7 linked regions of the Homo sapiens genome follow. The protein of the gene in region 5 purifies or fractionates together with the protein of the main gene of each other region. This does not show direct contact. Each region holds a gene or a part of one and is shown on either strand. Other genes may lie near its edges. The genes, in order: TTC38, AHR, WRAP53, DRC8, IQCN, ANGEL1 and APAF1.

The links.
Region 1: the proteins of IQCN (region 5) and TTC38 purify together in Homo sapiens (affinity purification with mass spectrometry; 2 studies listed by BioGRID and IntAct, with this or other methods). This does not show direct contact.
Region 2: the proteins of IQCN (region 5) and AHR purify together in Homo sapiens (affinity purification with mass spectrometry; 2 studies listed by BioGRID and IntAct, with this or other methods). This does not show direct contact.
Region 3: the proteins of IQCN (region 5) and WRAP53 purify together in Homo sapiens (affinity purification with mass spectrometry; 2 studies listed by BioGRID and IntAct, with this or other methods). This does not show direct contact.
Region 4: the proteins of IQCN (region 5) and DRC8 purify together in Homo sapiens (affinity purification with mass spectrometry; 2 studies listed by BioGRID and IntAct, with this or other methods). This does not show direct contact.
Region 6: the proteins of IQCN (region 5) and ANGEL1 purify together in Homo sapiens (affinity purification with mass spectrometry; 2 studies listed by BioGRID and IntAct, with this or other methods). This does not show direct contact.
Region 7: the proteins of IQCN (region 5) and APAF1 purify together in Homo sapiens (affinity purification with mass spectrometry; 2 studies listed by BioGRID and IntAct, with this or other methods). This does not show direct contact.

Annotation. Positions count from the first base shown.
Region 1 is NC_000022.11:46,266,464-46,271,302, forward strand, and holds the start of TTC38 (tetratricopeptide repeat protein 38), read left to right. Parts: upstream 1-1,544; 5' UTR 1,545-1,576; coding exon 1,577-1,609; intron 1,610-2,050; coding exon 2,051-2,128; intron 2,129-2,678; exon of another isoform or gene 2,679-2,826; intron 2,827-4,839.
Region 2 is NC_000007.14:17,332,585-17,336,783, forward strand, and holds part of AHR (aryl hydrocarbon receptor), read left to right. Parts: intron 1-1,327; coding exon 1,328-1,530; intron 1,531-2,302; coding exon 2,303-2,412; intron 2,413-3,060; coding exon 3,061-3,202; intron 3,203-4,199. UniProt on the Homo sapiens protein: Ligand-activated transcription factor that enables cells to adapt to changing conditions by sensing compounds from the environment, diet, microbiome and cellular metabolism, and which plays important roles in development, immunity and cancer.
Region 3 is NC_000017.11:7,697,778-7,701,239, reverse strand, and holds part of WRAP53 (telomerase Cajal body protein 1), read right to left. Parts: intron 500-3,462; coding exon 411-499; intron 1-410. UniProt on the Homo sapiens protein: RNA chaperone that plays a key role in telomere maintenance and RNA localization to Cajal bodies. Specifically recognizes and binds the Cajal body box (CAB box) present in both small Cajal body RNAs (scaRNAs) and telomerase RNA template component (TERC).
Region 4 is NC_000001.11:245,080,776-245,084,974, reverse strand, and holds part of DRC8 (dynein regulatory complex protein 8), read right to left. Parts: intron 2,893-4,199; coding exon 2,813-2,892; exon of another isoform or gene 2,810-2,812; intron 1,534-2,809; coding exon 1,491-1,533; intron 1,354-1,490; coding exon 1,287-1,353; intron 1,036-1,286; coding exon of another isoform or gene 1,007-1,035; exon of another isoform or gene 1-1,006. UniProt on the Homo sapiens protein: Component of the nexin-dynein regulatory complex (N-DRC), a key regulator of ciliary/flagellar motility which maintains the alignment and integrity of the distal axoneme and regulates microtubule sliding in motile axonemes.
Region 5 is NC_000019.10:18,267,281-18,271,479, reverse strand, and holds part of IQCN (IQ domain-containing protein N), read left to right. Parts: intron 1-1,888; exon of another isoform or gene 1,889-1,892; 5' UTR 1,893-2,001; coding exon 2,002-2,014; intron 2,015-3,914; exon of another isoform or gene 3,915-3,953; coding exon 3,954-4,199. UniProt on the Homo sapiens protein: Essential for spermiogenesis and fertilization. May be required for manchette assembly in elongating spermatids.
Region 6 is NC_000014.9:76,788,570-76,792,768, reverse strand, and holds part of ANGEL1 (protein angel homolog 1), read left to right. Parts: intron 1-1,402; coding exon 1,403-1,472; intron 1,473-1,994; coding exon 1,995-2,158; intron 2,159-3,380; coding exon 3,381-3,541; 3' UTR 3,542-4,199.
Region 7 is NC_000012.12:98,651,418-98,655,616, forward strand, and holds part of APAF1 (apoptotic protease-activating factor 1), read left to right. Parts: intron 1-4,199. UniProt on the Homo sapiens protein: Oligomeric Apaf-1 mediates the cytochrome c-dependent autocatalytic activation of pro-caspase-9 (Apaf-3), leading to the activation of caspase-3 and apoptosis. This activation requires ATP. Isoform 6 is less effective in inducing apoptosis.

The sequences.
Region 1 (4,839 bases), on a different chromosome or scaffold from region 5:
GGTGGAGGGGCACCAAAAACTCAATAATCAAGACAAATTCTCTTTTATTGAGGTAAAGTTCACATAAAAGTAACCATTTATGGGAGGCTGAGGTGGGAGGATTGCTGGAGCCAGGAGTTCAAGGCTTCAGTGACTTATCATCCCTATCCCCTCAGTCCCTGGTCACCACCAATCTTCTTTCTGTCTCTATGTTTGCGTATTCTGGACATGCATGTAAATGCACTAATACAAGTGTTACCTTTTGTGTCTGCCTCTTCCTTCAGTATGAATGAACCTTGAAAACGCTGTAGGAAAGGTGTGTCTTCTTTGGAGAACTGTCACCTCAAATTCTTTGCCCACTTTAAATTTGGGCTGTTTGTCATTTCGCTGTTGAGTTGTAAGAATTCTTTTTTTTTGAGACAGAGTCTGGCTCTGTTGCCCAGGTTGGAGTGCAGTGGCACAATCTTGGCTTACTCCAACCTCCACTTCCCGGGTTCAAGCGATTCTCCTGCCTCAGCCACCCAAGTAGTTGGGATTACAGGCATGCACCACCACGCCTGGCTATTTTTGTACTTTTAATAGAGATAAGGTTTCACCATGTTGGCCAGGCTGGTCTTGAACTCCTGACCTCAGGTGATCCACCTGACTCAGCCTCCCAAAGGGCTGGGATTACAGACATGAGCTGCTGTGCCCGGCCAAGATTTCTTTATGTATTCTGGATTCTAGACTCTTACCCAATATATGATTTACAAATGTTTTTTCCCATTGTGTTAATCTTTTCAGTTTCCTGAGTAGTGTCCTTTGATTCAGAAAAGTTTTTAATTTTGACGAAGTCCAACTTATCTATTTTGTTGTTGTTGCTTGTCCTTTTGGTGTTACATCTAAGAATCCATTGCTAAATCCAAGGCCATGAAGATTTACTTCTGTTTTCTTCTAAGAGTTTTATCTTTACAGCTCTCACATAAAACAAATAATACTTCAGTGCAATATTTCAAAAATCAAAACTAATGCAAAAAGTCCATGATGAACAAAATAGCATTTTAAATAAAGGCCAGATCTGCCCGTGCACTTGGTTCTACGCCCTTGATTCGTGCACCCTGGGGCGGGGGCAAATTAAACTAGGGGAGCCCATTGGACTGGGGCTGGTGTGTGGCTGATGGCAGAGTTCAGGCCGGGCCAGACCGGGCCAGTCCAGAGGGAGAAGCCGCTACTGCAGGAGACAGAGCGATTTTTCCGCTGCAAATCCTTGAGAAGGGAGGATGGAGGCGGCGGGACGACCCAGTGAAGCCGGCCCCGAACGCCAAGTGAGTGTGTGCCGTGCGCGCGCGGGTAGCTGCCGACCGCAACGACATAAACTTGAAAGTGACCGCTGTCCCGGAGCTCCCTGCTCCCAAGGGACCCGTCGCGTTGCAGAGTTGTCCGGTCGGGCCTCTGGGGCGGGCCCGGATCCTGGACCAGGGCCAGTCTGTCCGAAACCCACCAGTGAGCGAGCGGGAGAGCGCGGCCGCCCCGCCCCGCCCCTTTCCGCGACCGCCCCGCCCACTCCCAGGAAGGCCCGGGTGCCCAGAGCTCGCGGTGGACTCCGACCCGGCGCAACATGGCCGCAGCCTCGCCTCTGCGCGACTGCCAGGTACACGGAGGCTGCCCCCAACCAGGTCCCCCTCGGGCCCCGGGTCCTGGGGGTGGCCCGGTGCTGGCGGAATAACGGGAGACATGGCCCGGGCGCGGGGCGTGGGGTGAGCCCTGGGCGCACGGGCGCGTCCGCGGCAACGCCTGGAAGGGACCCGAGGCCCTTCTTGTAGAGTCCCCACCGAGGGAAATAAGGGACGCCTGTCAGGGTACTCGGGAGACCCCAAGACCTCCTAAAAAACGTAGCTCACTGGGCATGGCTGGGGACGCAGGGAAGCCCGCAAAGGTAAGGGGCTCCTTGGAACCGGCCCAGGACTGGGAGCCTGAGCCCATTTTACAGATGAGGAAGGTGGAGGTCAGAGGGGCCAGGAGACGTGTGTGTGTTGAAGTTTGAAGGGCTCCTGGAGAGAAGGCACTGCTATTCCCTTCTTGCCGTCTGTAGGCCTGGAAGGATGCGAGGCTCCCGCTCTCCACCACAAGCAACGAAGCCTGCAAGCTGTTCGATGCCACGCTGACCCAGGTATGCCTGCCGAGAGAGGCCGCGGCCCCTTCTGTGGAGGTCTAGGGGAAGGTTTTTTAATTGGGGAAAGCTGTTTTTTTGTTTTGTTTTGTTTTGTTTTGTTTTGTTTTTGAGGCGGAGTCTCGCTCTGTCGCCCAGGCTGGAGTGCAGTGGCGCTATTTCGGCTCACTGCAAGCTTTGCCTCCCGGGTTCACGCCATTCTCGTCCCTCAGCCTCCCGAGTAGCTGGGACTACAGGCGCCCGCCACTGCCCTCGACTAATTTTTTTTGTATTTTTTAGTAGAGACGGGGTTTCACCGTGTTAGCCAGGATGGTCTCGATCTCCTGACCTCGTGATCCGCCCGCCTCGGCCTCCCAAAGTGCTGGGATTACAGGCGTGAGCCACCGCGCCCGGCCATGGGGAAAGCTTTTTAAATTGCGCCATGACCTTAGCAATAGATGGCAGCACATCTGTGCACTTTGTACTGGAGGACGTGGGAGGGTGGGGACATATCTCTGCCCCCCCCCCACAGCGTCCTAAAAGGGCCTCTGCACTCTCCCTTCTTCCCCAGGACTCTGAGTGGTGGGTGGACAGCGGTGGGTGCAGTGGGGATGTTTTTTGAGGATGCTGGCCTCCCCGGGCCTCCCATTGTGGCCTGCTGAGGGTCTGATGCAGGGCTCGGCTGCTTAGGACGTGGGATCCTGTCCTGGGATGAATCTGTGAGTATACTGCCTTCACCTAGGCTGTGCCAAGACCTTCTGCCACATTACCAGTCATTTCTCTACCAATGAAGGGTCCTATAGTTTTAGAACTAGGAGAAGTCTCAGAAGTAAGATCCAACTAGCTTCCTTGACAAGTGGGGAAACTGAGGCTCAGAGTTGAACCTACTTGACTTGAAGGTTGTCCATGAATTACAGGCAGAACCAGGATGAACCTGGGCCTAACTGCACTGATAGAAACCTAAGCTGACCTTGGCGTGGGTGGTGAGGCCCCTGCATACTGACTTCATCCACATAACAGGAGGACTCAGGTAGCTCTTAGAAGCCTACGGGCTGAACAAGAGAGGACTGATGGAATGCTGTGAGCTGCGCCATGGGTGCCTCTCCTGTTCCCAGCCTGCCCTGCCAAGGGACTCTGCTGTGGGCATCTGAGTTGTTTGTTTATTTTGTGTTTGACCTGGCTCACTTGCCCTTCCTGTATCTCGCCGGCCTCTGTAGAGTACTCGATTTGTTTTTTGTTTGAGACGGAGTCTTGCCCTGTCACCCAGGCTGGAGTGCAATGGCGCAGTCTTGACTCACTGCAAACTCTGCCTCTCGGGTTCAAGCGATTGCCCTGCCTCAGCCTCCGAAGTAGCTGGGATTATAGGCACGCACCATCATACCCAGCTGATTTTTTGTATCTTTAGTAGAGACGGGGTTTCACCATGTTGGTCAGGATGGTCACAAACTCCTGACCTTGTGATTCCCCTGCCTTGGCCTCTCAAAGTGCTGGGATTACAGGCGTGAGCCACTGTGCCCGGCCCCTAGTACTCAGTTTGTTACACACCACATCCCCAATCAGTGGCAGCTCATCCTCCCAGCCTGGGTATATTTTGTCCCGTGTATTGGTGTCTCTGTGCTGTCCTGTGTTAGAACTTGGCTTCTTTAAATCTCTGTGCCAACCCTCCTGTATCTTGTCAAAATGCTTGCGTAGCTTATAGTCTCAGCTATTTGGGAGGCTGAGGCAGGGGGATTGCTTGAGCCTGGGCGGTTGAGACTGAAGTGAGCTGTGATTGTGCCACTGTACTCCATCCTGGGCAACAGAGCAAACCCTGTCTTAAAAAAAAAATACACGTACTAATTCTGTGTAGATGTAGGTTAGACAGCTGAAAGGGCATATTTTAAAATCTAATGTGTGATTATAGGTCTAGGACTTTTTTTAAAACAGGCATTTGAGTAAAGGACCAGGTACAAATACAGCAAATTGTTAAAAATGATGATGCGCTGGGCGCGGTGACTCACGCCTGTAATCCCAGCACTTTGGGAGGCTGAGGCAGGTGGATCATCTGAGGTCAGGAGTTCAACACCAGCCTGGCCAACATGGTGAAACCCTGTCTCTACTAAAAATATAAAAAAATTAGCCGGGCATGGTGGCATGGGCCTGTAATCCCAGCTACTCGGGAGGCTGAGGCAGAGGAATTCTTGAACCAGGGAGGTGGAGGTTGTAGTGAGCTGAGATAGTGCCACTGCCTTCCAGCCTGGGTGACAGGGCAAGACTCCATCTCAAAAAAGAAAAAAAAAAAATTAGCCGGGCGCAGTGGTGCACACCTGTAATCCCAGCTACTAAGGAGGGATTCTCCTACCAAGGCAGGAGAATTGCTTGAAACCTGGAGGCAGAGGTTGCAGTGAGCCAAGATCGTGCCATTGCACTCCAGCCTGGGTGACAGGGCAAGATTCTGTCTCAATTAAAAAAAAAATGATAAAATGAGCTTTGGGTAAGTTTTATCTTTCAGCTTTTGTGTCTTTCTAACTCTCTAAAATAAATGTTTTCTGTGAATATTTTTAAAACGAATGAATAAGAAGCAGGAATATTCCTATCGTGACCAACTTCAGGGCTCCTCTTAGGGCAGAAGAAGCCGATGTGGAGCAGGTCACCTGTCAGGAGGAACCTGCCTTTTCTTTCTTTTCTTTTTTCTTTTTTTTCTTTTTTGAGACAGAGTCTCACTCTGTCGCCCAGGCTGGAGTGCAGTGGCG
Region 2 (4,199 bases), on a different chromosome or scaffold from region 5:
AAATAGAAGAAAGCTTATAGAATAAGGATATAAAGAAAGAAAATGTTTTTGTATGGCTGTACACTGTGTTTAAGTGTTATTACAGAAGAGTCAAAAGTTAAAAATGCAAAAGTTTATGAAGTAAAAATGTTACAGTAAACTGTGCTGGGATTACAGGCATAAGCCACTGCACCTGGCCAAAAGGAAAATATTTTTTATAAATTCAGCGTAGCCTAAGTGTATAGTGTTTATAAACTCTATAGTAGTGTACGGTAATGTCTCAGGCCTTCACATTCACTCACCACTCACTCACTGACTAAACCAAAGCAACTTTCAGTCCTGCCTACCTTGTTTACAATAAGTGCTCTTATACAGGTATACCATTTTTTGTCTTTTATACTGTATTTTTACTGTATATTTTCTATGTTTAGATACACAAATACTTACCATCATGTTACAATTGCTTTAAGTATTCAGTACGATAGCATGCTGTACAGGTTTGTAGCCTAGGAACAAAAGGCTATACTGTATAGCTTAGATGCGTAGTAAGCTATACCATCTAGGTTTGTGAACCTACCCTCTGATGTTCACAGGATAATGAAATTGCCTAAGGACACATTTCACAGAACATGCCCCTTTTGTTAAATGACATGTGAGTGTATGTCTGAGGTGGAATATCTGTGTGCAGGAGGGCCTTTTCCTCCTTGTGCTGCTATTATTTTGATGTCAGAACCATCCCTTGGACTGGTTGATATTGTTTTAAGCAATTAAATATATCATGTTCATGTTTAAGTGCCTTTGTTTTCCCTGTCTTCTAAATTTCTTCCATATCTTTACTCAGTAGGGCTCTGCATTCTTTATATGTTTTCATGATGATTCATTTTAGTGTCTTAATAAAATTATATTTTGCCTCTATAGAAAAGATTATGAACTATGCAGTATGCTATGAGCTGTGATATAGTTCATGTATGCTTGAAAATGAATGTTTACTTTAGGACTTTATCACCATTCAGGATATATTGATTGCCTGGTGTGCAAGGAGCTGTGTGAGGTGAAAATGATAGGGTAATGGCAAGCTTGGAAAATGATATAGGTTTTCATGTTATGACCATTAGGAACAAGGAGTGGTTCACTTATCCCTTTAGAATATTTTTCATATTACTCTTTGAGATAGATTTAATGGGCGTCCCATGGAGAGAGGAGTGAAGGAAACTAACAGTTCTCAGCTTCAGGAATATTTATGGAATTATCAAGAACCCTAGAGGCAGCCATAATGGAGCCTTTTAAAAAGGCACTATTTTATATTGTTAATTTTAATGAACTTTTTTGTTGTTGTTGCTTTTTTAAGGCAATGAATTTCCAAGGGAAGTTAAAGTATCTTCATGGACAGAAAAAGAAAGGGAAAGATGGATCAATACTTCCACCTCAGTTGGCTTTGTTTGCGATAGCTACTCCACTTCAGCCACCATCCATACTTGAAATCCGGACCAAAAATTTTATCTTTAGAACCAAACACAAACTAGACTTCACACCTATTGGTTGTGATGCCAAGTAAGTGAGACTTTTTCACTTTTATTTTATTGGATGTACATTATGTTTCAGTAAGTCTCTCTTAGCATGTAAAACATACAGTGTATGTAATATTGTTTATTATTAGATTGGCTATTATCGTACATTCTTCCAGTGTAGCCTTTTACAGTAAAATAATTTAATCAGGCTCACAAATCATCTTTTTAATTTTTGCAATACTTGTCTCAAATGATGATGTTCTTATATATTAGTAAGGTTTATTCTTCTGATGACATTTATGTTGGTTTGTTTTACATTTTTAAATGGCACAAATGTTATTTGATTTCTAGCCCCAGAAGTTTTAGTAACTTTCAGAAAATTGTGAGCAGGAGTCTGATATTAAACATTTATATCATATCAAACATATCAGTGCTTTTCTCCTTTCTAATGTGGGAATGCAGAGAGGTAATTAGAAAAACCTTCTTCCCTAAAAATAGATTATAAAAACATTCCAGATTTTTATTAAAGATGTTCTGTTACCCATACATCTGCTCTATTAGATTCATTTTTAGCATACTAATTTCCATGGATTTATTCAGGAAAAGAAAATAGGCTGAAACTGAAATTTGCAATCATAAGCAAAGAAGATCAGTTTACATGGATGTGTTTAATTTCACATCTACTTATGTGAAATTCTAAATGTGAACTAAAACATATTGCAGAAACTAGCGTAAAACCAATGAATTTATCTTGGTTATTTCATTTATGTTAAATCTTAATCCATTCTTATTTTACCTTTTTTTATTTTAAACAGAGGAAGAATTGTTTTAGGATATACTGAAGCAGAGCTGTGCACGAGAGGCTCAGGTTATCAGTTTATTCATGCAGCTGATATGCTTTATTGTGCCGAGTCCCATATCCGAAGTAAGTTGTAGTTCCTTATGAACATGTCAGAAGAAAACGGCATATACTGTTGTACATGTTTCAAATTCTTACGTAATGTAAAGTGTTTAAGTAAAGTATATGGATAAACTTCTACTTAGTAACATATCATTATGATTAACCAGGGTTACACTCTTTGTTCATTAACTTGTCTACACCTGCCATGTAGAAATATTGTTGTTTAGTTATTAAAAAATGACCATTTTGGCCCATGAAGTTTTGCTTGGGAATTTTTTAATTACATCGTTATCAATTCATAAATCTATGTTAATATTGTAACAATAATAGTGTTAATAATTCTAGTTTAAAATTATAAAGTATTAGGCTGTAGGAAAATATTCCCTATTTAAAATGAAAATAATTTTTTCCCCAACTTATGTTCTCTCTATACTTTCCTGTGTTACTAGAATTGTTTGGTACATAATCTTCCCTTTAACATTTAAAATAATAAATTTAAAACAACTCTGAAAAACTATTTCCATGCCTTTTATTATTTTTTGTTTAAAATTTATTGTCTTTGGGGATAAAGGAAATACATCCAGAACTATGTCACAAGAGCTTTGTTTTAGGAATAATCTTTACTATATTGATTTGGGGGTTTGATAATTTAATTTTTTAATTTTATTTTAGTGATTAAGACTGGAGAAAGTGGCATGATAGTTTTCCGGCTTCTTACAAAAAACAACCGATGGACTTGGGTCCAGTCTAATGCACGCCTGCTTTATAAAAATGGAAGACCAGATTATATCATTGTAACTCAGAGACCACTAACGTAAGCACAAATAATGTTTCCTGTTTTAACAGTTTTGTTTTCATAAGTCCTCTTATGTGAAAGCATAAAAATAATTCAAGCAGACTTTAGTCTGTAAATAAAAATTGAAAAGTTTAATTCATCTAGAAAGAAGAGCACAGGTGAGAGACATTGAGAAGATAGAATTGACGAACTTGATTGAGAGCTACATGTGCAGAGCTATAGAAAGAATAATAAAACTCTAGGGTTTTATCTTGGGCATATGAAAGACACATGAAAAGCTAGTGTCATTGGTAAAAAAGAAGAAAAATATAACAATGCTTTATTTAGAATATATTCTCTAAACCCAGCAGTGATTTTAAGAGTTTCTTACACATGCTGCAGATGAGTCCTTTATCAAATATTTGTATTGCAAATGTTTCCTCCCACTCTGGAGAATTGATTTTTGTCTGTAGCTTGAGGTAAGGATTGATTCCCCCCAGCCATTATACGTATACCCAATTGACCAGTAACATTGAAAAGATGATTTACCGAGAAGGTCATTGTTTCCCGGCTGCGCTGTATTTTGATCAGGGGATTTTGTCTGTGGTTCTCTGTCTGGATTGTGTTGTTCTATTAATAGCTCCATTAGTGCAGTTGTCTATTTTGTCTAGCATTACACTGTCTTAGTTATTCTATCTTTATTATATATTTCTATGTCAGAGTGTGTCATTTTGTTTGTTTTGCCTTTTTTGTTCTCCTTCAAGATTGCCTTGGTTCTTCTTTGCCCTCTATAATTCCATATACATTTTAGAAAGCAGTTGTCTGAAAATCTGTTGAGATTTTGAGTGCAATTACCTTGAAACTGTAGATCATTTGGGGAGAATTAACATCTTTTTAATACTGAATCTTTGAGCCCATGAACATGATGAATGTATGTATGTGTATAAGTACCCATGGAAGTACATGAGTATGTGTGTACCATATGTATATGAGTGCATGGGTATGTGTGTACCTCTACAAATTTGTCACTTCTCCC
Region 3 (3,462 bases), on a different chromosome or scaffold from region 5:
CCAAGCACTTCAGGAGGCCAAGGCAGGTGGATCACCTGAGGTCAGTTCGAGACCAGCCTGGCCAACGTGGTGAAACCCCATCTCTATGAAAAATACACAATTAGCTGGGTGTGGTGGTGCACACCTGTAATCCCAGCTACTCAGGAGGCTGAGGCAGGAGAATCACTTCAACCTGGGAGGCGGAGGTTGCAGTGAGCTGAGACTGCATCACCGCCCTCCAGCCTGGGTGACAGAGGGAGACTCAATCTAAAAAAAAAAAAAGGAAGGGGAGGAAGCCAACTGACCAGCCCCTCTGATAAGCATGCCAAGCCTTCCTCCTCCAAAGACCCCTGGCAGCCCTTGACTCTCCCAAGAGGCCCTGCTTGAAACTGGGTGGTGGGGCGGCGAGCAGGGAGGCAAACATTACTTACTAGGAGGTGTCTGGCTGGGCTGAGGACATCAGAGAATACCAGCAGTAATCATAGATGGTATCACCTTCCACCATTCGAAGGACAGGGACCTATACAGAGACGGGGGAATGGCTGAGTCACTCGGAGGGAAAAGGAGTCTGAGGCGCGTGCCTCTAGCAGTGTTGTGGCAGATGGGGTGTATATATGGAGCACAGACTCTGTCTCAATGTTCAAGGGTGAGCTCAGACTTTAATGTCAAATTTAGCCACCAAAAGCCATATAGATTCATACTTTTTTTTTTTTATTATTTTGAGACAGAGCATGCACCACCATGCCTGGCTAATTTTGTTTTTGTTTTTTTTTTTAATAGAGACAGGGTTTCACCATGATGTTGGCCAGGCTGGTCTCAAACTTCTGACCTCAGGTGATCCACCCGCCTCAGCCTCCAAAAGTGCTGGGATTACAGGTGTGAGCCACCGTGCCGGGCCTTATACTTTTTCTTTATAAACACTTAGAGAGGAAGAAACAAATAATAATACCTCAACCCAGAGACAAAGAACCAACCAATTATTCAAATACTTACTGAGTACATGCTAGGTGCCATTTGATCCTTTAAAAAAATATTAGTACAAAAATTTGCCAGGCGTGGTGGTGGACACCTGTAATCCCAGATACTCAGGAGGCTGAGGCAGGAGAATCCCTTGAACCCAGGAGACAAAGGTTGCAGTGAGCTGAGATCGCACCACTGCACTCCACCCTAGGTGACAGAGAGACAGTGCCCCCCAAAAAAAAAAGAAAAAGAAAAGAAAAAAATTATCGGCTGAGCACAGTGGCTCACACCTGTAATCCCAGCACTTAGGGAGGCTGAGGCAGGCAGATCACTTGAGCCCAGGAGTTCAAGACCAGCCTGGGCAATATGGTGAAACACTGTCTCTACAAGAAAAAAAAATTAGCTGGGCATGGTAGTGCATGCCTGTAGTCCCAGCTACTAGGGAGGCTGAGGCATGAGAATTGCTTGAGCCCAGGAGATAGAGACCACAGTGAGCTGAGATCATTGCCACTGCACTCCAGCCTGGGCAACAGAAACACTGTCTCAAAAATACAAAAATGGAAACAAAAAAACCTCCTTACAAAAATAAAGAAAAAAAATTAAACAGTTCAAACATACAAAGTATCTTATTAAAAAAACAGCCCTGTGACCCCTCCATCCAGCTGAACAAAAAGATATGTTTAAACCCCTTTCCTAACAGAAACTCTCCCTCAGAGGTAAACACTATCTTGAATTTATCACTGTCATACATTTCCTTAGGAATATATATATATATATAAATATATATATATATATATAAATATATATATATATATATATATATAAATATATATATATATATAAATATATATATATATATAAATTTTTTTTTTTTAATTTTAAAGGCAGAGTCTCACTCTGTCACCCAGGCTGAGTGCAGTGGCACGATCTCAGTTCACTGCAACCTCCACCTCCCAGGTTCAAGCAATTCTTGTGTCTCAGCCTCCCGAGTAGCTGGGATTGCAGGAGTTCACCTCCATGCTCAGCTAATTTTTTGTATTTTTAGTATAGACAGGGTTTCGCCACGTTGGCCAGGCTGGTCTCGAACTCTTGGCCTCAAGTGATCTTTCTGCCTCAGCCTCCCAAAGTGCTGGGATTACAGGTGTGAGCCACTGCGCCCAGCCTAGGAGTATATTCATATGGGAAAAAAAACAGTATCTAACGTTGTCTTGCAGGTCTTTAGACTTAATTTTTTCTTTTCTTAGAGACAGGGTCTTACTCTGTTGCCTAGGCTGGAGCACAGTGGCGCAATCATCTCACTGAAACCTCAAACTCCTGGGCTCAAGCAAACAATCCCCTGGCCTCAGCCTCCCTAGTAACTGGGAATATAAGCATAAGCCACCATACCTGGCTTATTTATTTATTTATTTATTTATTTATTTATTTTTGACGGAGTCTCGCTCTGTCGCCCAGGCTGGAATGCAGTGGCACAATCTTGGCTCACTGCAACCTCTGCCTCCCAGACTCAAGCAATTCTCTGCCTCAGCCTCCTGAGTAGCTACGATTACAGGCGCCTGCTATCACGCCCGGCTAATTTTTTTGTATTTTTAGTAGAGACGGGGTTTCACCATCTTGGCCAGGCTGGTCTTGAACTCCTGACCTCGTGATCCACCCACCTCAGTCTCCCAAGTGCTGGGATTACAGGCATGAGACACCACGCCCAGCCTGCCCGGCTAATCTTTAAAATTATTTTTTTGTAGAAACAGGGGTCTGTGTTGCTCACGCTGGTCTAAAACTCCTGGCCTCAAGCAATCCAGCCACCTCAGCCTTTCAATGCACTGGGATTACAAGCATGAGCCACCATGCCCGGCCTAGACTTAACAGTAATGGTATTATATCATATACATCCCTCTGTGATAGCAAGCTTTAACCATGGAAACACATTTTGCTCTAATTCATGCATTTTCACTGGTGTATAGTACTCTACTCATGAATATATTCAAACTGATCTACCCTTCTTCTATTTAGAATCACTGATGTTTTTCTGTTTTTTGGCTAGTGTGCTTTAACATTCTGTACACATGTAGAAGGGTTTCTCTACAGTTTCTGCTGAAGAGTAAAATTACTGGTCTCTACGCTATGCACTTTGCAAACTTTGTAAGATACTATAATGTCAATTTCTTTCCCAAAGCACTTGTCCCAATGTCCTCTCCCACCAGCAGTGTATAAGAGTCTCTATTCTAGCCTGGGCAATATAGCAAGACCCCAGTTTTACAAAAAATTAAAAAATTAGTCAGGCATATTGGCATACTTGTAGTCCCACCTGTTTGGGAGAGTGAGGCAGGAGGACTGCTTGACCCCAGGAGTTTGAGGCTACAGTGTGCCATGTTCGCACCACTGCACTCCAGCCTGGGCAACAGAACAAGATCCTGTCTCCAAAAAAAAAAAAAAGTGTCTATTGTTCTTTATCTTCTTGGTATTGCCAGACTTTTACATTTTTCTCAATTTGAAGGTGGTGAAATGGTATTTCATTACAGCATAAAT
Region 4 (4,199 bases), on a different chromosome or scaffold from region 5:
ATGAAGAAGCTGATGCTTTGAAAGTCGTAACATCCCCATCAGAATTAATCCCGAAGGTAATTTTAACAATGGCGTCAGAGTTCTTGGGTGGCAGCTGTGACGGCCTTGCCATTCTGACCCTCACTCTCTGTATTCCGCCTTAAGGTGGATGAAGCTGGAATGGTCAAACCAGTTGTGCGTGTAGATGCAGTCTTAGTCTTCCCTACTCAAAATCACTTGCGCTTTTCATTCTGCCTCAAGTGATTAGCAACTCTGAGTCATTCAGGACCCAGTCTGTGAACCAGAGAGCTCTAGCTTTGTATGGGAGAAGGCAAGGGGACCAATATGAGGATGGTTTCAGGAGACTGTCCATCAGGCTACTGACCTTCAGTGTAAACAAATTTACACATCAGCCTAGCAGAGAGAATTCCTAAAGGAAATATGTTGGCATATATATATAAGTGTGCAGGTTTTATGTGTGTGTATGCATATATGTATGATGGGCCATGTTCAAAACAAATATATATGGTTCAATTAACATTAAAAAAGGACATTTTTAGTGTTAAAAATGACCTCAGTATTCAATTGAGGCTACATTATCTGTAACTTCACTGACAGAAAAGCTCTTTAAAAGGGAATTTTTACCAGCACTGTGGGAAGCCAAGATGGGTGGATCACCTGAGGTCAGAAGTTCGAGACCAGCCTGGCCAACATGGTGAAACCCATCTCTACTAAAAATACAAAAAATTAGCTGGGCGCAGTGGCCTGTGCCTGTAATCCCAGCTACTCGGGAGGCTGAGGCAGGAGAATCACTTGAACCCAGGAGGCGGAGGTTGCAGTGAGCTAAGATCGCGCCACTGCACTCCAGCCTGGGTGACAGAGCAAGACCGGATCCGTCTCAAAAAAAAAAAAGCCGGGGCGCCGGGGGGGGGGCGGAATTTTTATATTCTTTATTCAAATCTTCAATCTAGGAAGAGGCCTTCATTTACAGTGATCGATAGTTCATGTTTTCCAGATGGCATATCTTTTATTCTGGAAATGCTCTGAATGCAATGCCTGAAATTATAGAAGTAATCACTGTGCTTCACAAAATTCTACGAGACAACAACCCATCTCCCCTTTCCCTACTCTTTGTCCTCTTAACCCCCACAGAACAGAAACCATCCCCAAGCCAAAATAGCAGGAACAGTAAATAACTTTCACCAGAATGACTGATTTTAAAGTATCCCCTATAACTTTCGCATAACTGTTAACAAATTATTAATTCCTCACATAAGTCATTGTGATAAGTAATAAATCACACTTACCTTCTTCAGTCATATACTTGATCAGCTCGTCCTTAGTAAGAAACCCACGTTTAGCTGAATCTAAAACCTAGGGGAAAAGAAAAGATAGATATTATATTTTTCATTTGGTGAATAAGTTCTACATGATAAATTTTTCATATATGTGTGTATGTAAATAAATGTATTTATATATATGTATATGCATATAAGCTGGAGTTTACATACCTCAAAAGCTCGAAGAAGGACATCTTCTGGAATTGGTCTGTATCTATAATTATGCAATAAAATGAGTAAATGCCGTGGTATTTACCGCAGTCTTTACATAATAAATCAGCAGTCTCCAACCCTTTTGGCACCAGGGACCAGTTTCATGGAAGACAATTCTTCCACAGACCAGGGGAGGGGAGGGATGGTTTGGGGATGAAACTGCTCCACCTCAGATCATCAGGCATTAGATTCTCATAAGGAGCATGCAACTTAGATCCCTAACACGCACAGTTCACAATAGGGTTCGCATTCCTATGATAATCTAATGCCAATGCTTCTCAGACAGGAGGCGGAGTTCGGGCAGTAATGCTCACTCTCTTGCTGCTCACCTCCTGCTGTGTGGCCCAGGGGTCCTAACAGGCCAGGGACTGGCACCAGTACCTGGCCTGGTGGTTGGGGATCCCCGTAATAAATGACCACATAAAACAAAATAGGGCTGGGTATGGTGGCTCATGCCTGTAATCCCAGCACTTTGGGAGGCTGAGGTGGGCAGATCATCTGAGGTCAGGAGTTCGAGACCAGCCTGGCCAACATAGTGAAACTCTGTCTCTACTAAAAATACAAAAATTAGCCAGGCATGGTGGCATGCACGTGCCTGTAATCCCAGCTACTCGGGAGGCTGAGGCAGGAGAATTGCTTGAACCCAGGAGGTGGAGGTTGCAGTGAGCCAAGATGGTGCCACTGCATTCCAGCCTGGGTGACAAAAGCGAAAGTCCATCTCAAAAATAAAATAAAATAAAATAAAATAAAATAAAAGCTGCTAACATACTGGGATGATAATACTTGCCTCATTGAAATCTTTTTGGATTTCTGGATATGAAAGTTGAAAATACCTCAGCCCCACAGGAAATATTTAGTGCAAAATCACTGACATGTTTGAGGTTATCTATTAGCTTTTTGGACATCAATTTATCTGGGCACAAGACTTCTATGATGAACCAACTATGGTAAGCTAATGCTATATTTTTGCTAGAAAAATATTAGGATTCTTATTTATCATTGATAATTCAAAACAGAAGATACTAAGAATGTTGATTTACGATCTTTATAGCTTATTTACCCTCTAATTATGCTTTGCTTAGGATAACACTAGTGTGGTTGATATTTCTAAGCAGGTACCAACTGCCAGTTCAGAAGTAGCTTGAAAGGTTAGAGGGAGGCCACCTTAGGACACACTGCTTGAGTATAACACACAAAGTGAAAAAGCCAAGCGTCCTGAAATGAATGGATTCATAATTCTGACCATTACTTTGCCTTAACAATTGCATTTACTTACTTACTTTCTTTCTAGTAGTATTTCTGTCATCACCGGAAGAAATTTTTCGAATCGAATGTATCCAGTGGGTTCTTCTTCCTCTACCTAAACATTCAATAAGTAAATAGCCATTTAGTCATTCAACAAATGTATTCAGCAACTAGTTGTTCCAAGCACTGTGCCAAGTGCTAGAGACTCTGGATGGTGAGCACACTTGGGCGTGACCCCTGCTCACAGAGATGGTCCTTTACTTTATCTTTTTAAGATTTACCTTCATCATTCAACTGGAGCACAGCTGATACTCTGATCAGGGAGACAGACATTAATCAAGAAACAGCAACCAAAGACACTGTGAACTGATGTAAGTACAGTGAGGGGAAGGAGCATGGGTCTGTAAGAACAGCCAATAAAGAACACTCGGCCGGGCGTGGTGGCTCACGCCTGTAATCCCAGCACTTGAGGAGGCCAAGGCAGGCAGATTACTTGAGGTCAGGAGTTCAAGATCAGCTTGGCCAACATGGTGAAACCCCGTCTCTACTAAAAATACAAAAATTATATGGGCGTAGTGGCGCACACCTGTAATCCAAGCTACACGGGAGGCTGAAGCAGGAGAACCACTTGAACCCGGGAGATGGAGGTTGCAGTGAGCCGAGATCGCACCACTGTACTCCAGTATGGGCAACAGAGCGAGACTCCATCTCAATAAAAAAATAAAAAATAAAAAAATTGCCGGGTGCGATGGCTCACGCCTGTAATCCCAGAACTTTGGGAGGCCGAGGTGGGTGGATCACGAGGTCAGCAGATGGAGACCATCCTGGCTAACACGGTGAAACCCTGTCTCTACTAAAACTACAAAAAATTAGCCAGGCATGGTGGTGGGCGCCTGTAGTCCCAGCTACTCAGGAGGCTGAGGCAGGAGAATCACGTGAACCCAGGAGGCAGAGCTTGCAGTGAGCCGAGATCAGGCCACTGCATTCCAGCCTGCGTGACAGAGCGAGACTCCGTCTCAAAAAATATATATATATAGATAAATAAAAAAATAAAAAATAAATAAAATAATAAAATAAAATAAAAATAAAAAAATAAAGAACACTTCTTAGACCAGGAGACCAGGGAAGTCATCCATGAGGAAATAACACTCCAGCTGATTTAGAGAGTATGAGTAGAAGGTAATGAGACAGAGACAGCAGGGGAGAGACAGTCACCTAGAGGAAACTGAATACGCGAAGACTCTCTGCTGACACATTGGCGGCTAGGAGGCTGGAGTACAAGGAGCAGGGAGAAGGCTTCAAGATGAGGCTAGAAAGAGAGACAGGGGCCCGACGGCAGGGCCTTCTTGTCCATGACAGTGATAAGGTTGCTAGCCTGAGAACAATGGGAAATCAGTGACGGTCTCATAGATGCATGTTTTG
Region 5 (4,199 bases):
TTTTTTTTTTTGAACTGAGTTTCGCTCAGTCACCCAGGCTGGTGTGCAATGGTATGATCTCAGCTCACTGCAACCTTTGCCTACTGGGTTCAAGAGATTCTCCCGCCTCAGCCTCCTAAGTAGCTGGGATTACAGGCACCTGCCATCATACCTGGCTAATTTTTGTATTTTTAGTAGAGACAGAGTTTCACCATGTTGGCCAGGCTGGTCTTGAACTCCTGACCTCACGTGAGCCACCCACCTCGGCCTCCCAAAGCACTGGGATTACAGGCGTGAGCCACTGCGCCTGGTTTTTTTTTTTTTTTTTTGAGACAGAGTCTCACTCTGTCGCCCAGGCTGGAGTGCAGTTGCGTGATCTCGGCTCACTGCAATCTCCATCTCTCGGGTTCAAGTGATTCTCCTGCTTCAGCCTCTGAAGTAGCTGGGATTACAGGTGCATGCCACTGTGCCTGGCTAAGTTTTGTATTTTTAGTAGAGACGGGGTTTCACCATGTTGGCCAGGCTGTTCTCGAACTCCTGACCTTGTGATCCACCTGCCTTGGCCTCCCGAAGTGCTGGGATGACAGGTGTGAGCCACCATGCCTGGCCTCCCAGGTTACCTTTTATCTTATACTTACTCTTTAATCACAATCTTTTTTTTTTTTTTTTTGAGACAGGGTCTCAGCCAGGCACCGTGGCTTACACTTGTCATCCCAGCTACTTGGGAGACTGAGGCACAAGAATCACTTGAACCTGGGAAGCAGAGGTTGCAGTGAGCCGAGATTGTGACGCTGCACTCCAGCCTGGGCAAAAGGGTGGGACTCTGTTTTAAAAACAAAAAAGAGATAGGGTCTCATTCTGTCGCTCAGGCTCGAGTGCAGTGGTGCCATCGTAGCTTACTGCAGTCTCAACCTCCTGGCCTCAAATGATCCTCCTGTCTCAGCCTCCCGAGTAGCTGGGACTACAGGTGCATGTCACCATGACTGGCTAATTTTTATGTTTTTAGTAGAGACGGGTTTTACCATGTTGCCCAGGCTGGTCTGGAACTCCTGGCCTCAAGTGACCCACCCACCTTGGCCTTCCAAATTGCTGGGGTTACAGACGTGAGCCACTGTGCCCGGCCTATTTTTTTTTTTTTTTTGAGACAGTTTTGCTCTTGTTGCCCCAGATGGAGTACAATGGCACGATCTCAGCTCACTGAAATCTCTGCCTCCCAGGTTCAAGATATTCTCCTGCCTCAGCCTCCTGAGTAGCTGGAATTACAGGCGTCAACCACTATGCCTGGCTAATTTCTTGTATTTTTAGTAGAGACGGGGTTTTACCATGTTGGCCAGGCTGGTCTCGAACTCCTGACCTCAGGTGATCCACCCTCCTCGGCCTCCCAGAGTGCTGGAATTACAGGCGTGAGCCACGCCTGGCCAATTTTTTTTTTTTTTTTTTTTTTTTTTTAAGAGACAGTTCTTGCTTAGTTTCCCAGGCTGGTCTCAAACTTCTGTCCTCAAGTGATCCTCCCATCTTGGCCTCCCAAAGTGCTGGGATTGCAGGCAAGAACCACTGTGCTCAGCCTGGACGCCATTTCTGATGCCTGGATATCATGCCCTTGTATGATTAATTTAAGCCTGTCTCCATTGATAATTTTGGTTTCTTCCAGTTTTTCCTCTGCTAAACAATACAGTGTTAAACATCCTTGAACATACTTCTGTATTCATTTGTAGCAGAACCTCTACCAATCACTGTTTTGGTTATTTCCAGTTGTTTTGTTTGATTTCTAGCTACAAAATAACACTGGAATAAATTTCCTCATCTTTGCACATTTTTTTTTTTTTTTAGAATTTAGCTTTTTTAGAATTTAGAAATTTTAGAATTTAGCATTTTTGCTTTTAACATTTCTTTTTGTGTTGGTCTTGAGCCAGCCCAGGGCAGTGTTGCTGCATATTGCATGGATGAAAGGCTGAAGGCTGCCTCCTCTTGCAGGCTGGCTTCTGAGATTGCACCTTCTTCTCCTGCTACTCCTCCAAATCTATGACCCTTCAAGGTAAGAAGATGGTCTATGGGCAAGGGGTCTGGCTAGTCCAACCTGAAGAGAGGGGCTTCTGCCAAACAAGTGTGCTGTGCTCCAGGCTATGCATCAGGGTGGCTTGACAGTGTCCCAGCTCTCTCTGCATCCTAGTTACTTCTGAAAGCCACAGTCACCACTTTTTCTTCCTTCTTTCCATCCTTCCATATGCCATTTACCTACCCATCCCCTAATCCACCCACCCACCCATCCACCCATCAGTCTACCTCCTGTTGGGTTATCTCTTCACCAGTCTTTCCAGCTCTCTTTAATTTCCCTCCCTCCCTTGCTTCCTTCCTTCTTTCCTTTTATTTGACACGGAGTTTCACTTCTGTTGCCCAGGCTGGAGTGTGATGGCGTGATCTTGGCTCACTGCAACCTCCTCCTCCCGGGTTCAAGCAATGCTCCTGCCTCAGCCTCCCGACTAGCTGGGACTACAGGCTCATGCCACCATACCTGGCTCTTTTTTTTTTTTTTTTTTTTGAGACAGAGTCTTGCTCTGTCACCCAGGCTGGAGTGAGGTGGCGCGATCTCGGCTTACTGCAACCTCTGCCTACCGGGTTCAAACAATTCTCCTGCCTCAGCCTCCTGAGTAGCTGGGATTACAGGCACGAGCCACCATGCCGAGCTAATTTTTGTATTTTCAGTAGAGATGGGGTTTCACCACGTTAGCCAGGCTGGTCTCAAACTCCTGACCTTGTGATCCGCTCACCTCGGCCTCCCAAAGTGCTGGGATTACAGGCATGAGCCACTGTGCCTGGCCTACTTTTCTGTATTTTTAGTAGAGACGGGTTTCACCATGTTGGCCCGGCTGGCCTCGAACTCCTGACCCCAAGCAATCTGCCCACCTTGGCCTCCCAAAGTGCTGGAATGACAGACATGAGCCACCGTGCCGGGCCAATTTGCCTTTAACACTTTATTCATCAGCTTTATTTACCTATTCATCCAAACCTTCATCTGTCTTTCCAACCCATCTACCATTCACTCATCGACTGATTCATCCATTCAGTATCTAGTCCTGTATCTATCTGTCCATCCAACTTCCAATCCACTCACCATTTATCAGTCAAGATGCCCCCCCCACCCAATACCTACCCATTCACAGCTTGGAACCAAGCTCTATGACTGAGATGGGGACACAGAAATGACTCTGTCTTCTAGGATTCACAATCAATGGGGAGAGGCAAATAATCTCCCCCACCACACTTCTCTCTCTCTCTTTTTCAAACACACACACACACACACACACACACACACACACACACACACAGAGGCAAACAGGAAATTTCCAAAACATTGTGATCAGTGCTAAACCCAGGGTACATCCAAGATAAAGTTTGAAAAGCAGGCCGGGCGCGGTGGCTCACACCTGTAATCCCAGCACTTTGGGAGGCTGAGTCAGGTGGATCACCCGAGGTCGGGAGTTCGAGACCAGCCTGGCCAACATGGTGAAACCCCGTCTTTACTAAAAATACAGAAAAGTAGCCAGCCAGGCATGGTGGCGTGCACCTGTAATCCCAGCTACTCGGGAGGCTGAGGCAGGAGAATCGCTTGAACCCAGGAGGCGGAGGTTGTGGTGAGCCAAGATCACAGCATTGCACTCCAGCCTGGGCAACAAGAGCAAAACTCTGTCTCAAAAAAAAAAAAAAAAAGAAAAGAAAAAAGAAAAGCAGGTAAGTGGTCGGGCATTCAGGTGTCATACACTGTGTGCCAAGATGAAGTGGCCGTAGGGTGATGAGAGGTGGATATAAGGATGGCAAAGACCACTTGGGAGAGGGAGGGATGGAAAAAGGGAGGCGGAAGATCGCAACGTGCCAGGAACAAGATCTGGGCCTGGGGGGCCAGTGTCCACCCCAGCCAGGAGACCTCTTGTTTGCAGGACCTGCTACACCCTGACCACCCCCTGCCGCCCCCACAGGCAGAGCTGACCTGTCCGGTAATCAAGGCAATGCAGCCGGCCGCCTAGCTACAGTTCACGAGCCAGTTGTCACCCAGTGGGCGGTGCATCCTCCAGCCCCCGCTCACCCCAGTCTCCTGGACAAAATGGAGAAAGCGCCTCCACAGCCCCAGCACGAGGGCCTCAAGTCCAAGGAGCATCTTCCGCAACAGCCTGCCGAAGGCAAGACGGCGTCCCGCCGCGTCCCACGCCTCCGGGCTGTGGTCG
Region 6 (4,199 bases), on a different chromosome or scaffold from region 5:
TTCATAGATTCTCTTTATCAGATTGAGAAAGTTTTCTTCTATTCCTAGTTTTTTGAGTGTTTTTAACTCATGAAAGGGTGTTGGAGTGTGTCAAATGTTTTTCTTCTGTCTGTTTAGATAATCATGTGGCTTTTTTTTAAACTTAAGTATTCTATTGCGACATATCACATTATATGATTTTTCAGATGTTAAACCATGCTTACATTCCTAGGATAAATCTTATTTGGTCATAGTATATAATTTTATATTTTGCTGGATTTGGTTTGCTGATATTTTATTGAGGAATTTTGCATCTGTATTCATAAGGGATATTGGTCTATAGTTTTTGTTGTGACATTTTATCTAGTTTTGATGTCAGAGTAATGCCTCATAGAATGAGTTGAGAAGTGTCTCCTCTTTTTTTTGGAAGTGTTTGTGAAGGATTTGTATGAATTCCTCTTGAAATGTTTGCTGGAATTCACCAGTGAAGCCATTGAGCCTGGTGTTTTCTTTGTGGGATGTTTTAAAATTACAGATTCAATCTCTTTATTTATTATAGGCCTATTCAGATTTTCAGTTTTTTCTTGAGTTATTGTGCATAGTTTGTGTCTTTCTAGGAATTTTTCAATTTTATATAAGTTATCCAATTTGTTGGTATCCAGTTATTTATAGCATTCACTTATAGTTATTTTTTATTTCTAAATGGTTGGTGGTGATGGCCCCTCTTTCATTTCTGATTTTAGTAATTTGAGTATTCTGTTTTCTTGGTCTAGCTAAGGGCTTGTCACTGTTGTTGCTGATCCTTATTATCCTGTTAATGTTGGTAGGATCTGTACTAATGTCCCTTCTTTCTTTCCTGATATTGGTAATTTGTATCTTCCTTTTTTAACATTCGTGTGTATGATATGTATGTGTGTGTGTGCTTATAGATGTATACATATATGTAATATGTATGTATATATACATGTATGCATACATGCATAGACACACACAATGGATGGTATGTAATAGAAAGTCTTTGAAGGAATATACCAGGAATTTGGTAACATTGGTGGCTTCTGGAGAGGGGAATTGAGTGGCAGAGGAGGACAAGTGAGAGGGAAACTTCACTGATACTTTTTGCTACATTTTGATTTTGTACCATGTGACTATATGACTTATTTTTTTTTAATCAAATTAAAGAAAAACAAAGGTGAGGAGCCACAGAAGACAATGTCTGTGTTAGATGCCCTACATCTGCTTTCTGAGGTTCTTGACTTTGGTTTATGGTCATCTTCTCCTCCTCACTGTTTCTCCCTTTCTCCTTCTGGATCCTTCTGAAGCAATCCAGTCAAGGATCTGAGAGGGATTTTAGGGTGAAAGGTTCTGATCCTGCTTCACTGTCTGTGGATGAGAAAATGTTTTTCTCTCTGGTCCTCTGCAGAGCGACCTGCGGGTTGGGCTGAGTCTGTCCTTGAGGAAGATGCATCGGAGCTTGAGCCTGCCTTCTCCAGGTAACCTTCTCCAGTTCTCTTCTGTTTTCAATCCAGCCCTTGCCTAGGTGTAAGAGAGAGATTCCCATTGGTTGTCCTGAGGTTGACTTGGGGGAGCACTTTTTGATAAGCTCTTTTTCCCCTAATATCTGCTAAACTTATAGAGGGTTATGTAGGTATGCAGAAGCCAGAGGTGACCCACCCATGTTACTGCAGGTGAAAAGGCTATGTACTCTTTCCTCAGAGGGTAAAGCCTCACAGAAGAGGCCTGGGCCCCAGACAGGGGTACATTGGGGATACTTTACCAGGTAACAAGCAGATAGTGGGGGATTAGGAGTGTTAGGGAGTCTCAGTACAAATGTGTGTTTCTAGGCTAATTTTAGCTAAGACTGCCAGCCCCTTCTTAGCATGGGGAGGAATTGGCTGAGATTGAGTCATCTGAGATCATCCTTTTAAAAAATCTTCATAAAACCCATAGAAAAAGTGATCTAGGGAAAATTTAGTAATTTTTGTTAACTAATGTTTCCCCCTTCATCCCTGTAGGACTGTAGGTACCATCCAGCACTGCCTCCACCTGACGTCAGTATATACCCACTTCCTGCCCCAGCGTGGCCGCCCAGAGGTCACTACAATGCCATTGGGTCTTGGAATGACAGTAGATTACATCTTCTTCTCAGCTGAGTCCTGTGAGAATGGGAACAGAACTGGTAAGCCTGATGGATCCTGGGTTCCTCCACCCCCAGGTCCCTGGGAACAGCTAATGGTAGGTCAGGCATTTGGTAGCATGTCTTCAGCTGCTGGGATTTAACCAGCAAAGGAGCAGATTTCATACCTCCCTTGCACTGGTCATCCTTATCATTCTCCCCATAGGCCACTTGCCTGCCTTGTCTCTTTTTACCCTTGCAGCATTAAAGAGAGGAGGGTAGGACAGTCACTCCCAATCCCCATTTTAGAGGTAAAAATAGAGATCTAGGAATTGGTTGAGTTTGTTTAATGACAGCCACTGAATGAGGGACTTGGTTAGGTAAGAGACCTTATTTTCTGTCTCCTCTCCCCATACCAGTGGGCACAGTATAGCAATCTCCCAGCCCCATGCCTGTATTGTGTAAAGAATGTTTCTTTTTGGCCAGGCATGTGTATTACTGTTATGGCCAGGCACGTGTATTACTGGTTCACACCGGTAATCCCAGCACTCTGGGAGGCCGAGGTGGGTAGATCACTTGAGGTTAGGAGTGAGACCAGCCTGGCCACATGATGAAACCCCGTCTCTACTAAAAATACAAAAAATTAGCCGGGTGTGGTGACGGTGTCTGTAATCCCAGCTGCTTGGGAGGCTGAGGCAGGAGAATCGCTTGAACTCGGGAGGCAGAGGTTACAGTGAGCCGAGATCGTGCCACTGCACTCCAGCCTGGGCAACAAGCGTAAAACTCCGTCTTAAAAAAAAAAAAAAAAAAAATTAGCCAGGCATGGTGGCGGGTACCTATAATCCCAGCTACTCAGGAGGCTGAGGCAGGAGAATCGCTTGAACCCGGGGGTCAGAGGTTGCAGTGAGCTGAGATTGCGCCACTGCACTCCAGCCTGGACAACGAAGTAAGACTCCATCTAAAAAAAAAAAAAAAAAAATCAGATTTTATATAGAAAAGCTGGATCTCTAGCTTCTCTTGGAAAATCAAAAGATCTTATAATGGTGGGCTCTCCAGCTTGCCCCAGTTCCCCGGAACTCACCTGTCTTTATTCGTTGATGATATTATGGAGTATCTCTGAGAAAATGGGGCCTCCTCAGCCAGATGCTGCAAGAGGAGGTGAGGGGCAGTGGGCAGCCAAGGGGATGCAGCCTGCAGAAGGCGTTCCCAAAGGACTCTGCCACTGCCTGCCCATGCAGTGTGGCTGCGGCTGCTTTTACCCATTGGCTTCTGCTTTGTGCCCCAGATCACAGGCTGTATCGAGATGGAACTCTCAAGCTCCTGGGTCGTCTCTCCCTTCTCTCTGAAGAGATACTCTGGGCTGCCAATGGCTTACCCAACCCCTTCTGCTCTTCAGACCACCTCTGCCTGCTAGCCAGCTTCGGGATGGAAGTCACCGCCCCATGACAGGGCTCCCAGGGGAAGAGAGCTTCTCTTCCAGAAGAGCTCACTGGATCAGAGACTGTGGAAAAATCCCATGCATCTAGAAACTTAGATCCAAGAAACTTACATCCCCTCCCTTCCCCCTCCTCGTTCCCTTTTTCCCACGGTTAGACTTTCTCCAGGCCTGGCTGCGTTCTCTGCCTGTGGTCCTTGCCCCACCCCAGCCTCTTCCTAATCCTGTGCCACACACTCAGTGGCCCTGGGAGAGGCAGAAGGGGGGCTCCCCCTTCCTTCCATGTATCCAGCGCTCCCCCTTGATTTTTAATTACCAGGGTTATGGGAGTTCTTGATTTCATTGGTTATTTGCTTTCAGGCCGTTTCTTGATGTACCTTCTGACCTGACCTTTTCCCTGCCTTCAGGACTTCTGGGCCCAGCCCTCTTGCCAGGCATGCATATGTGAGATATGCATATCATGTATGTGTCCTCTTGGGGTGAGACTTCTGCACAGCCATGCCTGCCTCTGACCAGTCCACTTTTCATGTTGGGGCTGTAGGCCTGGGGCAGGTTCAGAGTCTACCCAAGTACCTATGTATGAGCAGGCAGCAGCAGGGCATGGCCCCATCTCTCCTTTTAGCCTCTGTGTTTCATTAGGCATTCATCCTGCCAACCAGGGCAGGCCCG
Region 7 (4,199 bases), on a different chromosome or scaffold from region 5:
TTATTCTGTTTTTTATCTCCCATGACACAATGTTTTTAAGATTTATCCTTGTTGCTATGTATACATGTTATTTGTTACACCTGATTGCCACCAACCCATTTTACTGCTCATTACCCTAAGTAAATGGATATGTAGATTGTATCCAACTCTCTGCTGCTGCAGCAAAGCTGGGTTGAACTTCTATGTGAGTAAGAATTTCTTGGGTATTTGTAGCTAGGAGCAAAATTAGTAATTATTTATTTATTTTTGTTTTTTTTTAAAGAGACAGAGTGTCACCCTGTTGCCCAGGCTGAGTGCAGTGGCCATATCATAGCTCACTGCAGCCTCAAACTTTTAGGCTCAAGTGATCCTCCCACCTTAGCCTCCTGAGGAGCTGGGTGCACACGCCACCATGCCTGGCTAATTATTTATTTATGAAACAGGGTCTTGCTTTGTCACCCAGGCTGGAGTGCAGTGGCACAATCTTGGCTCCCTGCAACCTCTGCCTTCTGGGCTCAAGTGATCTTCCCACCTCAGCCTCCGGAGTAGCTGGGACCACAGGTGCATGCTGACACACCCAGCTAATTTTTGTATTTTTTGTAGAGTTGGGGTTTTGTCATGTTACCGAGGTTGGTCTCGAACTCCTGAGCTCAAGCAATTCACCCACCTTGGCCTCCCAAAGTGCTGGAATTGCAGGTGTAAGCCACCATGCTTGGTGTGTTTTTAAACATTTTTTTGTAGAGACAGGTTTTTGCTATCTTGTCCAGGCTGGTCTCAAACTCCTGGGCTCAAGTGATGCTCCCGCCTTGGCCTCCCAAAGTGCTGGGGTTACAGATGAAAGTCACCATGTCCAGCCAAAATTACTAAATGATAGGATATACAAATACCAAATTTGATTCCCCTCCAGTCTGTACATTTCCCCCAGATGAGTATGGGGACTCCGATAATTCTACTTGTGCAGTGACGGTTGGTATGATCCAGCTTTGTAATTTTTGCCAGGCAAACTTCTATAAAGTTGTGTCTTTTACTTTGCATTTCTCTGGTAACTCAAGTTTGAACATTTCTTCATAAGCTTGTTGTTAGCCTTTTGGGTTTCTTTTTTTATGGATTTTGTTTATATTATTTGTCTATTTTCCATTGGGGTTTCCAATTTTTTTTTCTTTTTGCTTTTTAGGAGTTTCTTATATATTCTAGACATTAAACTTTGTTGGTTTTAGACTTTTATTTTATTTTATTTTATTTTTTTTGAGACGGAGTTTCGCTCTTGTTGCCCAGGCTGGAGTGCCATGGCGCGATCTTGGCTCACCACAATCTCTGCTTCCCAGGTTCAAGCGATTGTCCTGCCTCAGCCTTCTGAGTAGCTGGGATTACAGGCACCCACCACCACGCCTGGCTAATTTTGTATTTTTAGTAGAGACGGGGTTTCTCCATGTTGGTCAGGCTGGTCTCGAACTCCCGACCTCAGGTGATCCCCCTGCCTCGCCTCCCAAAGTGCTGGTATTACAGGCGTGAGCCACTGTGCTCAGCTGGTTTTAGACTTTTAAATACCTTATTTTAATTTGCCATCTGATTAATTTTTTTCCTGGGTGTTCTCAGTAGACGAGAACTCTGATGTAGTCAAACTAATCAGTTTTTTTTTTTGTCTTCTAACTTGTGTTTCCTGAGTTTTGTTCAAGTAGTCCTATTACAGTCTTATTATTCATATTTAGTTCTTTATTCTCTGGAGTCTGCCTTTGTATGTCCACTAATTCAAGAATAGGTGCTTTCCCAAAGATAAATTTTAATCTCTGGAGTTCACTTCCATTCTCAAATACAGGAACATTGGATTTTTGACATTTAATTGTATTGCAAAACCTTTTCTTTTAAAAGTACAGATAATATAAGAGATCTAAATTTGATTAAAATTGTGGTTCCTATGGAAATGTTTTCTTTGGGTGGTGATTGGCATAAATTAAAGAATATTAAGTTGTTAACTTTTAGCTGGGTGTGGTGGCTCGTGCCTGTAATCCCAGCACTCTGGGAGGCCGAGGTGGACAGATCATTTGAGGTCAGGAGTTTGAGACCAGCCTGGCCAACATGGTGAAACCCCGTCTCTACTAAAAATACAAAAATTTGCTGGGCGTGGTGGCGCATGCCTGTAATCCCAGCTACCCAGGTGGCTGAGGCATAAGAATCGCTTGAACATGGGAGGCAGAGGTTGCAGCGAGCCAAGATTGCACCACTGCTCTCCATCCTGGGTGACAGAGTGAGATGCCGTCTCAAAAAAAAAAAAAAAAAAAAAAAAAAAAAAAAAAAATATATATATATATATATATATATATATATATAGTTTTTAACTATTTATGTCTATACAGTTTTAAGTAACCCAGTTGTCTTTTGAAATTTCAATGCTTTAATTTTTTCTTATTTGTAGGGAAATAGTAAAGAATTGACGTATCTTTAAATACAGTAGTGACATTTTACATTACTGTATTCGTATGTTGGTTTTTAATCATGGATGCTTTCTTCATAGGCTGTGTTCCTATTTGTTTCTGTCCTTTCCAAGATTTCTTTGTGTTATTAGATTATTAATTGCTACCAGGATAAGCCTCCTGTGAAAGTAGTGTGGAGTTTTCCCTGAATAAAGGCAACTTTTCTCTGAATTAGTTTCTCTGAGTGAATTGTAAATACAGCCTCCTCATGCAAAGCTAAATTGCTCCCTCTTGTGCCCATAGTCAAGATGTTTAGATTCTTTCTGAAATGTGGAATTAATGGTTCAGTTTTTAACTAAATGTTATATTGTGATGGTTAGAGATTTACATATCAGATGGTCATTTGGTCTGTTTGCCTTTTTAAAGCTGGTAGTGTTTTCTCTTTTCTTGCATGTATTTAAATGCCCTAAATTTTTAGTTATACATTTAGGGAAAAAGGCCTTTGACCCTAGGTAATAGGTACATAAATTAAAATATGAAAGAATTTACTAGGTAGCCATATCAGGATGCTTTCTTTACCTTTAATCTTGGGATGATTTTTACAAATTTTATTTTATTTTATTTTATTTTGAGACAGAGCCCCATTCTGATGCCCAGGCTGGGGTGCAATGATCTCAGCTCACTGCAACCTCTGCCTCTTGACAGTCCCCCTGCCTCAGCCTCCCAAGTAGCTGGGACTACAGGTGTGTGCCACCACACCCGGCTAATTTTTGTATTTTTAGTAGAGATGGGGTTTCACCATGTTGGCCAGGTTGGTTTCGAACACCTGACCCAAGTGATCCCCTCGCCTCGGCCTCCCAAAGTTCTGGGATTACAGGTGTGAGCTGCTGTGCCTGGCCGATTTTTACAAATTTTAGGTAGTACAAATTTAAAAAAATGGAAACTTAAGGCAACAGATAGTTTATTTGTCTGTTTTTGTTTGTTTAAATATTTTTAAAGTAGTATTTTCTTTTTTTTTTTTTTTTTTTAATTTATTTTTTTATTGATAATTCTTGGGTGTTTCTCACAGAGGGGGATTTGGCAGGGTCATGGGACAATAGTGGAGGGAAGGTCAGCAGATAAACAAGTGAACAAAGGTCTCTGGTTTTCCTAGGCAGAGGACCCTGCGGCCTTCCGCAGTGTTTGTGTCCCTGATTACTTGAGATCAGGGATTGGTGATGACTCTTAACGAGCATGCTGCCTTCAAGCATCTGTTTAACAAAGCACATCTTGCACCGCCCTTAATCCATTTAACCCTGAGTGGACACAGCACATGTTTCAGAGAGCACAGGGTTGGGGGTAAGGTCACAGATCAACAGGATCCCAAGGCAGAAGAATTTTTCTTAGTGCAGAACAAAATGAAAAGTCTCCCATGTCTACTTCTTTCTACACAGACACGGCAACCATCCGATTTCTCAATCTTTTCCCCACCTTTCCCGCCTTTCTATTCCATAAAGCCGCCATTGTCATCCTGGCCCGTTCTCAATGAGCTGTTGGGCACACCTCCCAGACGGGGTGGTGGCCGGGCAGAGGGGCTCCTCACTTCCCAGTAGGGGCGGCCGGGCAGAGGCGCCCCTCACCTCCCGGACGGGGCGGCCGGCCGGGCAGGGGGCTGACCCCCCCACCTCCCTCCCGGACGGGGCGGCTGGCCGGGCAGAGGGGCTCCTCACTTCCCAGTAGGGGCGGCCGTAGTATTTTCATTTAAAAAGAAAAAGAAATAAAAGTTCTCCTTACTTGTTCCTTTTTGCTTTCTCCTAAATTCTTAATCTT